Linked DNA regions of Homo sapiens. The protein of the gene in region 1 purifies or fractionates together with the protein of each later gene. This does not show direct contact. Each region holds a gene or a part of one and is shown on either strand. Other genes may lie near its edges. The genes, in order: CEP20 and CRYGD.

What was found.
Region 2: the proteins of CEP20 (region 1) and CRYGD purify together in Homo sapiens (affinity purification with mass spectrometry; one large-scale study listed by BioGRID and IntAct). This does not show direct contact.

What each region holds. Positions count from the first base shown.
Region 1 is NC_000016.10:15,874,894-15,878,715, forward strand, and holds part of CEP20 (centrosomal protein 20), read right to left. Parts: intron 1-3,822. UniProt on the Homo sapiens protein: Involved in the biogenesis of cilia. Required for the recruitment of PLK1 to centrosomes and S phase progression.
Region 2 is NC_000002.12:208,121,725-208,126,289, forward strand, and holds the start of CRYGD (gamma-crystallin D), read right to left. Parts: upstream 2,801-4,565; 5' UTR 2,750-2,800; coding exon 2,741-2,749; intron 2,631-2,740; coding exon 2,388-2,630; intron 222-2,387; coding exon 1-221. UniProt on the Homo sapiens protein: Crystallins are the dominant structural components of the vertebrate eye lens.

The DNA.
Region 1 (3,822 bases):
TGCCTCAGGACACTTCAGCAGCCCTGGAAAGTTACATGCAGTAAGGAATTGAGGCCGCCTGTCAATATCATTATGAGTTTGGAAGCAGATAGTTCAGCCACATTCAAGGCTTCCGACTACAACCCTGGCTGGCATCTTGACTCCAACCTCAAGGGGGAGCCTGAGCTAGACTTACGTGACTAAGCCAATCCCAAATCCCCGAATATTCCACAAATAATCTATGTTGTTGTTCTAAGCTACCAAATTCTGGAATAATATCACACTAATTTTTCCATGCCACAGGGAAACCAGGAAAGTAAGTTTCTTTATTTAATAAGATGCCGCAACTCTTATGAAAGCGTCACCTAGTAATATAAAACAGGTCTCTTTGTTTACTTTAATCTTCCCCAAAGTGTTAACTGGTTCAAGATGATTTTTAAATGTTAAAAGTTTTATTTTTTAAATAAATATTCAAAAAAATGTACTTGTGATTAAAATTTTGGGTTGGACATGGGGGCTCAGGCCTGTAATCCCAGGACTTTGGGGGGCCAGCCTGGCCTCAAACAGGAGTTTGAGACAGCCTGAACAACATAGCGAGTCCCCTAGCTCTACAGCAATTTTATTTTAAATTAGCCACAGAAGGTAATATGCACCTGTGGTCCCAGCTACTTGGGAGGCTGAGGTGAGAGGATCGCTTGAGTGCAGAAGGGAGAGGCAACTTGCAAATTCATGGATTAAGGTTTATCTTTTAAAATAAGTTTCAAAAAGATAAAGAAAAGTGCGGCCTCACAATAACTTGCCTGTAATTCTGAAATGCAAAATTCTGAAAACTGGATTCTCTTCATATATCTGGCAAAAAATCATCAGATGGCAAGGGTTGACCTAACAAGGCTATTAACAAGGCTATTACAGACTTTATCTTACTTTGTGTGAAAACATTAATGTGCTGGGTGTGGTGGCTCAAGCCTGTAATCCCAGCACTTTGGGAGGCCAAGGCAGGAGGATCACCTGAGGTCGGGAGTTCAAGACCAGCCTGACCAACATGGAGAAACCCCGTATCTACTAAAAATACAAAATTAGCCGGGTGTGGTGGCATGCTCCTGTAATCCCAGCTACTCAGGAGGCTGAGGCAGAAGAGTCACTTGAACCCAAGAGGCAGAGGTTGCAGTGAGCTGAGATCATGTCATTGCACTCAAAAAAAAAAAAAAAGAGAAAGAAAATATTAATGTGATTGTGGAATACTACTTTAGGACTCCCTGGCACATACATGTAGTATTTGGTAGATGTACCATATTACTTTTTTTTTTTTTTTAAAGAATTGAAGTCTTGGGCCGATGGCTCACACCTGTAATCCTAGCACTTTGGGAGGCCGAGGCAGGAGGATCATGAGGTCAGGAGATCGAGACCATCCTGGCTAACACGGTGAAACCGTCTCTACTAAAAATACAAAAAATTAGCCAGGCGTGGTGGCATGCGTCTATAGTCCCAGCTACTTGGGAGGCTGAGGCAGGAGAATCGCTTGAACCTGGGAGGCGGCAGTTGCCGTGAGCCGAGATCACGCCACTGCACTCCAGCCTGGACGACAGAGTGAGACTCTGTCTCGAAAAAAAAAAAAAGAACTCTCGCTGTGTGGCCCACACTGGAGTGCAGCAGCAAGATCATGGCTCACTGCAGCCTCAATCTCCTGGATTTAAGTAATCTTCTTGCCTCACCCTCCTAAGTAGCTAGGACTACAGGCATGTCATTTTAAAACCCGACAGCATTTGGATTTTCAAACATGTATCTGGCCTCAGTGGTTTCAGATGCAGCACTGCAGATCTGTAAGTAAATAATATGAGTAATATGTGACTATGGCAAACTCTGTGAATGCCAATCACTGAAGTGTGAGAAACAAGGGCTTAAAGAAGTTACCTAACTTTTAAAAAATAAAGCCGTTTTAGCAACTTTTTTTTTTGCTTCCTCATCCTCTCTCAAACTTACTTTTTTTTTTTTTTTTGGAAACGGAGTCTCGCTTCTGTCGCCCAGGCTGAGTGCAGTGGCACGATCTCGGCTCACTGCAAGCTCCACCTCCCCGTTTGACGCCCATTTTCCTGCCTCGGCCTCCCAAGTAGCTGGGACTACAGGCATCCGCCACCTTGCCCGGCTAATTTTTTGTATGTTTAGCAGAGACGGGGTTTCACCGTGTTAGCCAGGATGGTCTCCATTTCCTAACCTCGTGATCTGCCCGCCTCGGCCTCCCAAAGTGCTGAGATTACAGGCGTGAGCCAATGCGCCCGGCCTTCTTTTTTAAAAAAATATCAAACATTTCACGAATTTGCGTGTCATCCCTTTGCCGGGGCCATGCTAATCTCTGTACCGCTCCAATTTTAGTTTATGTGCTGTTAAAGTGAGCACAAACTTCTTAATACTTTCATCTGAAGTAGGTATCTCAAAAGCTACCAAGAAGCCAGTAATAGTCATTGCTTATTTCCATCAACTGCTAAATGTAAAATGATGTCTTGTATTAAATGATGTAATAACTCACTGCTCATCCTAAGTCACGCTTAGATTCCCCCAATTATTTTTCCCACTGTTCTCAATTATACAATTTTTATACTTTTCAAAACACTTGTTACCAGGTGCAGTGGCTCATGCCTGTAATCCCAACACTTTGGAAGGCCAAGGTAGGTGGATAACTTGAGCTGAGGAATTGGAGACCAGCCTGGCTAACATGGTAAAACACCATTTCTAAAAAAAATACAAAAATTGGCCAGGCATGATGGTGCATGCCAGCGTATGCCTGTAATTCCAGCTACATGGGAGGCTGAGGTGGGAGAATCGCTTGAGCCCAGGAGTTCGAGGCTGCAGTGAGCCATGATCAAGCCGCTGCACTCTAGAGACCTGGGCAACAGAGTGAAACCCTGCCTTGAAAAAACAAACAAAAAAACCTCACAGCACTTTGGGAGGTGGAGGTGGGCAGATCACTTGAGGCCAGGAGTTCGAGACCGGCCTGGCCAACATGGTGAAACCCCATCTCTACAAAAAAATATGAAAAAAAATTAGCTGGGCATGGTGGTGCACACCTGTAATCCCAGCTACTCAGGAGGCTGAGGCAGAATCAGTTGAACCCAGGAGGAGATTGCGGTGAGCTGAGATGGGGCCACTGCACTCCAGCATGGGCGACAGAGCGAGACCCTATCTCACAAAAAGGAAAAAAGAAAAAAAAAAGAAACAAGGGAAGATGAGAGGAAGAGAAAGAGGAAAATGCCATAAAGGAGTTACTATCTGAACAGGGCCAACAGAAAGGAAAGATGCTCCAATAGAAGTTAAGATGCTCCAATAGAAGAGGGAGAAAGGTGATGTAGGGCTTCTAGGATAAGGGAATGGTTTACAAGGCAAAGCAGCATAAAGTTGCAAAGTGTCTTCCAGGCATAATCAGAAATCAGGTGTGAGCAGATAGAACAACAGACGGGTAGAAAGAGGTGTAAAGTGCTACGCTAAGCAACAGGGACTTCACTATACACACAATGACAAAGGTAGTATATGATCCTGGAACATTAATTTTACACAAGGATTTGTGGGAGAGTTAGATTTAACTGGAATGTCATTTAAAACATTTATATAGTAAAGCAAACAACTTTCAGAACTTTTTTTTTTTTTTTTGAGACAGGGTCTGATTCTGTCACCTAGGCTAGAGTGCAGTGGTGTGATCTTGGCTCACTGCAACCTCCGCTGCCCAGGTTAAAGCGATTCTCATGCCTGAGCCTCCCTAGCAGCTGGGACTACAGGCACACGCCACCATGCCTTGCTAATCTTTTTGTTATTTTTAGTAGAGATGGGGTTTCGCCATGTTGACCAGGCTGG
Region 2 (4,565 bases), on another chromosome or scaffold:
CCCCAGTCCTGGTAGCGCCTATAGTCCCCTGGCATCAGCAGGTACTGCCGTCCTCGGTAGTTGGACAGCTCGTAGAGGACCCAGGAGCCCTCCAGCACGTTGAGGGAGTGGATTTCATTGAAGCGGAAGCGGTCCTGAAGACAGGAGCAGTCCTCAGTGAACTCTATCATCTGGCCTCTGTAGTCCTCTCTCTCATAGAGTCTGATCCTGTGAGAGCCAGACTGGCGGACCCAGAAATAAAAAGAGAAGAAAAGCAAGTGTGAAATGATTCCAATGCATTGTTAGGCAGTCCAGCTTGGTGAGGACCCGCTCAAGCCATTTTGAAATACATGGTAAAATTTAATTAATTCTGAATATTTATAAACTCCTCATTACCGAGCACAGAGATTCAGTACCTTTTCAAGATTATGAAGTGTGGTGAAGAAATTGAGAAGGAAATCTCACTCTTTAATATATTCAGCTATTTCTTAGGATGAGCTGCCTCCTAGGCTCAGTATCCTGTACCACATGCAAATCCAAACCTGTAACAGCTTATTACTATTTTATACCATTTTGAAGAAATGTTTTAATATTAAAATAAACATTAAATTATAAAGAAATATATTTAAATAATGTATAATTTTAATATACATATGATATCTAATACATATTTAATTATATACTATATTTAAAATATATTATAAAATGTATAAAATTATATTTTATTTAAAGTTAATCATATTTTATTTTAATAATTATATTCAAATTATATTTTATAAGTATAAATTAAAATTATATTTATTTTACAAATTATATTTTATTTTAAAATAACTTTACTAAAATATAAATAAAATATATTTAAAATACAGAAATATAAGGGGTGGGGCAGTGGCTCATGCCTGTAGTCCCAGCACCCTGGGAAGCCGAGGCAGGTGGATCACTTGAGGTCAGGAGTTCAAGACCAGCCTGACGAATATGGCGAAACCTTGTCTATACTAAAAATACAAAAATTAGCCAGGTGTGGTGGCGGGTGCCTGTAATCCCAGCTACTTGGGAAGAAAATTGCTAGGGCCCAGGAAGCAGAGGTTGCAGTGTGCCGAGATCATGCCACTGCACTCCAGCGTGGGGAACAGAGCAAGACTTCGTCAAAAAAAATAATAATAATAAATAATAAAATAAAATAAAATAAAAATAAAAATACAAAAATTAGCTGGGTGTGGTGGCGTGCTCCTGTAACTCCAGCTACTCAGGAGACTGAGAGACGAGAATCATTTGAATCCAGGAGGCGGAGGTTGCAGTGAGCCGAGATTGCACCACTGCACTCCAGCCTGGGCGTCAGAGTGAGACTCTGTTTCAAAAAACAAAAACAAAACAACAACAACAAAAATATATATATACACACATATAATGTAAATGAAATATATTAAAAATATATTAAAATATATTTAAAATATGTTAAATATATTTAAAATATAATATAATTTATGTAGTTATATAAATATATTAAATACATATTTATTAAATAAATATATTATTAAATACATTATATTCATTAAATATATTTAATGTAAATATATTTAAAATATAAAAATATGTATTTTAAATATAAGTATTTAAAATATATTAAATATATCATTTAATATATTGAATTAAATGATAATGCATCATTTAAATCAATGACATAAATAAAATATGTTAAATATATAAGCCTTCTATTCAAAATATAAGTGTTTTAAATATATTAAAATATAAATATTTAAAATATATTAAAATATAAAATGTTAAATATCTTCATATATTAAAGAACAATTAATTCTAAGTCAATAACTTGTGAATGCAATGAAGAAAAATGGAGGAAGAAACATCAGTAAGTCCAAGGACGAATTTTGCATAAACTTTAGTGTTCTAACACACATATGGGATAAAAGGGACACATGTGTAAAATATGTGTGTTGCTCTCCTTTGAAGGAAAGTCTTACTTATATAGGTTGGGAAAACCCAAAATATGCAAGAGAGGAGCAAAAACGGGAAAAAGTCTCAAAAGAAATTACCCTGTTTGCTCAGTAACTGCTGTACGCTCTAGCATTTATTCTTCTATTGGGTATTAGTGGTTTTTCTACAACTCCATTCTAAATGATTCCAGAATAGGACTTAAGTCTTATACAACCCCTAGGGCAGGAGACACATTCCTACTCAATACATATTTGTGGATTAATTGTGATTAACTGGTGTCTGGGTAATACTTTGCTTATGTGGGGAGCAAACTCTATTGACTTAATCCACTATAGTTCATCTTTTGTCCACTCTCAGTTATTGTGACTGATCACTACTTCTAATGTTTAACTTTTGCTTGAAACCATCCAGTGAGTGTCCTGAGGGCCTGGGTCCTGACTTGAGGATGTACTCACGTGGGGGATGAGGCGGCAGGAGCGGACCGAGTCGCTGAGGCCCATCCACTGCTGGTGGTCGGCATAGTCGCCGCGGCGCAGGAAGTACTGGAGGCCCGAGTAGTTGGGCTGCTCATAGAGCATCCAGCAGCCGCTGTCCACGCGCGCCGAGTTGCAGCGGCTCAAGTAGGGCTGCAGGTTGGGGTGGTCGCTGCTGCATTCATAGTGGCGGCCCTGGAAGCCCCGGTCCTCGTAGAGGGTGATCTGCAAGGCAAGGCGGGACAAGGCGAGGTCTCACAGGCCTGCTCCTGCCCCAGTCTCTGGCCCCCGCGATGGAGGAAGCTCCGGGGTCCCGGGGCGCAGGCTGGGCTCACCTTCCCCATGGCTGGCTGGGCGCACGGCGGTGCTGAGCTGGTGGGGCGGCGGCGCTGAGCGGGTGGGGCTGCGGCGCGGCGGGCTATATAGCAGGAGGGCTGCTGCGTTGGCAAGAACCGCACAAAAGGGGCCCCCGGAGGGGAGCAAGGGCATTTTCGTGTTCTCTTTTTTTCTCTTTGCTGTGCTAGACCACGGGGCTTGTTGTGGGTTTTGGTCGCATTCTCTCTGGAGTATTCGGATTGCTATCACTGGCTGATGCTATTGAGAATGTTTGTAAAACGGCAATTTGGGACATTGTCTATTTATAATGGAAGTGGAGCTTCAGCTATTTCACATATAGTTCACGCTTTTATTCGTATAGATTGGGGAAAAACAAAAAAAATTTAAGTCGGGGAGCAAAAAAAGCAACGACTCTTAATAAGGCAAATATAAATTAATCTGTCAGAACTACAGTATTACTTACGTGCCACAATATTGAATACTGATTGTTAATAGGAAGGAAATGGGCTTAACTGAATGTTGAAAATTTCAAGTTAGTCCTTTAAGAGAACGTCATCATGAAAGGGTGTAAGAAATTGGAACATTTTATTAAGAGAGTTCACAGAATTTCGAACTTTTATTATGGTAAAACACACAGCAAACGTGAATCTTCAATATTGGGTCTGATTTTGTTGCAATTATGCCTGGAAGTAGCTGAGAATTAGATGTTTTTCTCTTAGCTAAAGGTGGTGCCGTGATTCAAAAGAGAGAATAGTTCTAAGATGCTTAATCTCAGAAAGAACTAAAAAGGGAAATATCTAAGTTTGAGGAAATTAGAAAAAGTAATATGTTTGAAACACAAAAACATGATCTCTTAGCTTGTTATAAAATAAAACCAAATTCCTAAGAAACTTATTTCTGGTAGGATCTAGAATACACCTTTGCCCTCTGAACGAGCGAGAGTACACAAGGCCTTTGACTCAGACGAAATTAATTGCATGAACACAAAGGGGAGCTATGGCTGGAATGATGCAGGGAGAGGAAGGAATAAAAATCTAGAAGTTGGACTCGAGGAAGACTTCAGAAAGTACTTATTGGCCTGGAAGAGAGCAGTTTGATGGACTGGGAAGAGTACTGGAGTGGAATATGACCTATGTGTCCAGCTTCTTTCATGTTCAAAGAATTGCTTACAGCCCTGTGTCAACCCATGGAAGTACTTTGTCTTGTCTTTGAGTCATAAATCTTTGTAAGTGGTATTTATGAATTAAACACCAACTATGTGCAATACAAATTATTTTAATTCTTATTTTCTGGCTGCTTTTTTTTTTTTGTATTCTTTCTATATAGAGCTCTACGGTGGTAGGGAAATACCTTTTTCTTTTGTTTTGTTTTGATTGTTTTCTTCATCCCCATTGCTACATATAGCAGGCGTATGGTAGGTGCTCAAAAATTGGTAAGGATCCTAACTCAAGGAAGTTAAGAGTCTCTAGTGGCTAATAATTGGAGGCTATTGAAATGGAAAATAAACTTGTGGCTGGGTGTGGTGGCTCACACCTGTAATCCCAGCACTTTCGGAGGCCAAGGTGGGAGGGTCACTTGAGCCCAGGAGTTCGAGACCAGCCCTGGCAACATAGTGAGACCCCTTCTCTACAAAAAAGTGAAAAAATTAGTCAGGCATGGTGGTGCGCGCCTGTAGCCCCAGCTACTTAGGAGGCTGAGATGGGAGGATCGCTTGAGCCTGTGAGGTCGAGGCTGCAGTGAGCTGGGTTTGTGCCACTGCACTCCATCCTGGACAACAGAGTGTGACCATGTCTCAAAAAATAAATAAATAAAATAAAATAAACT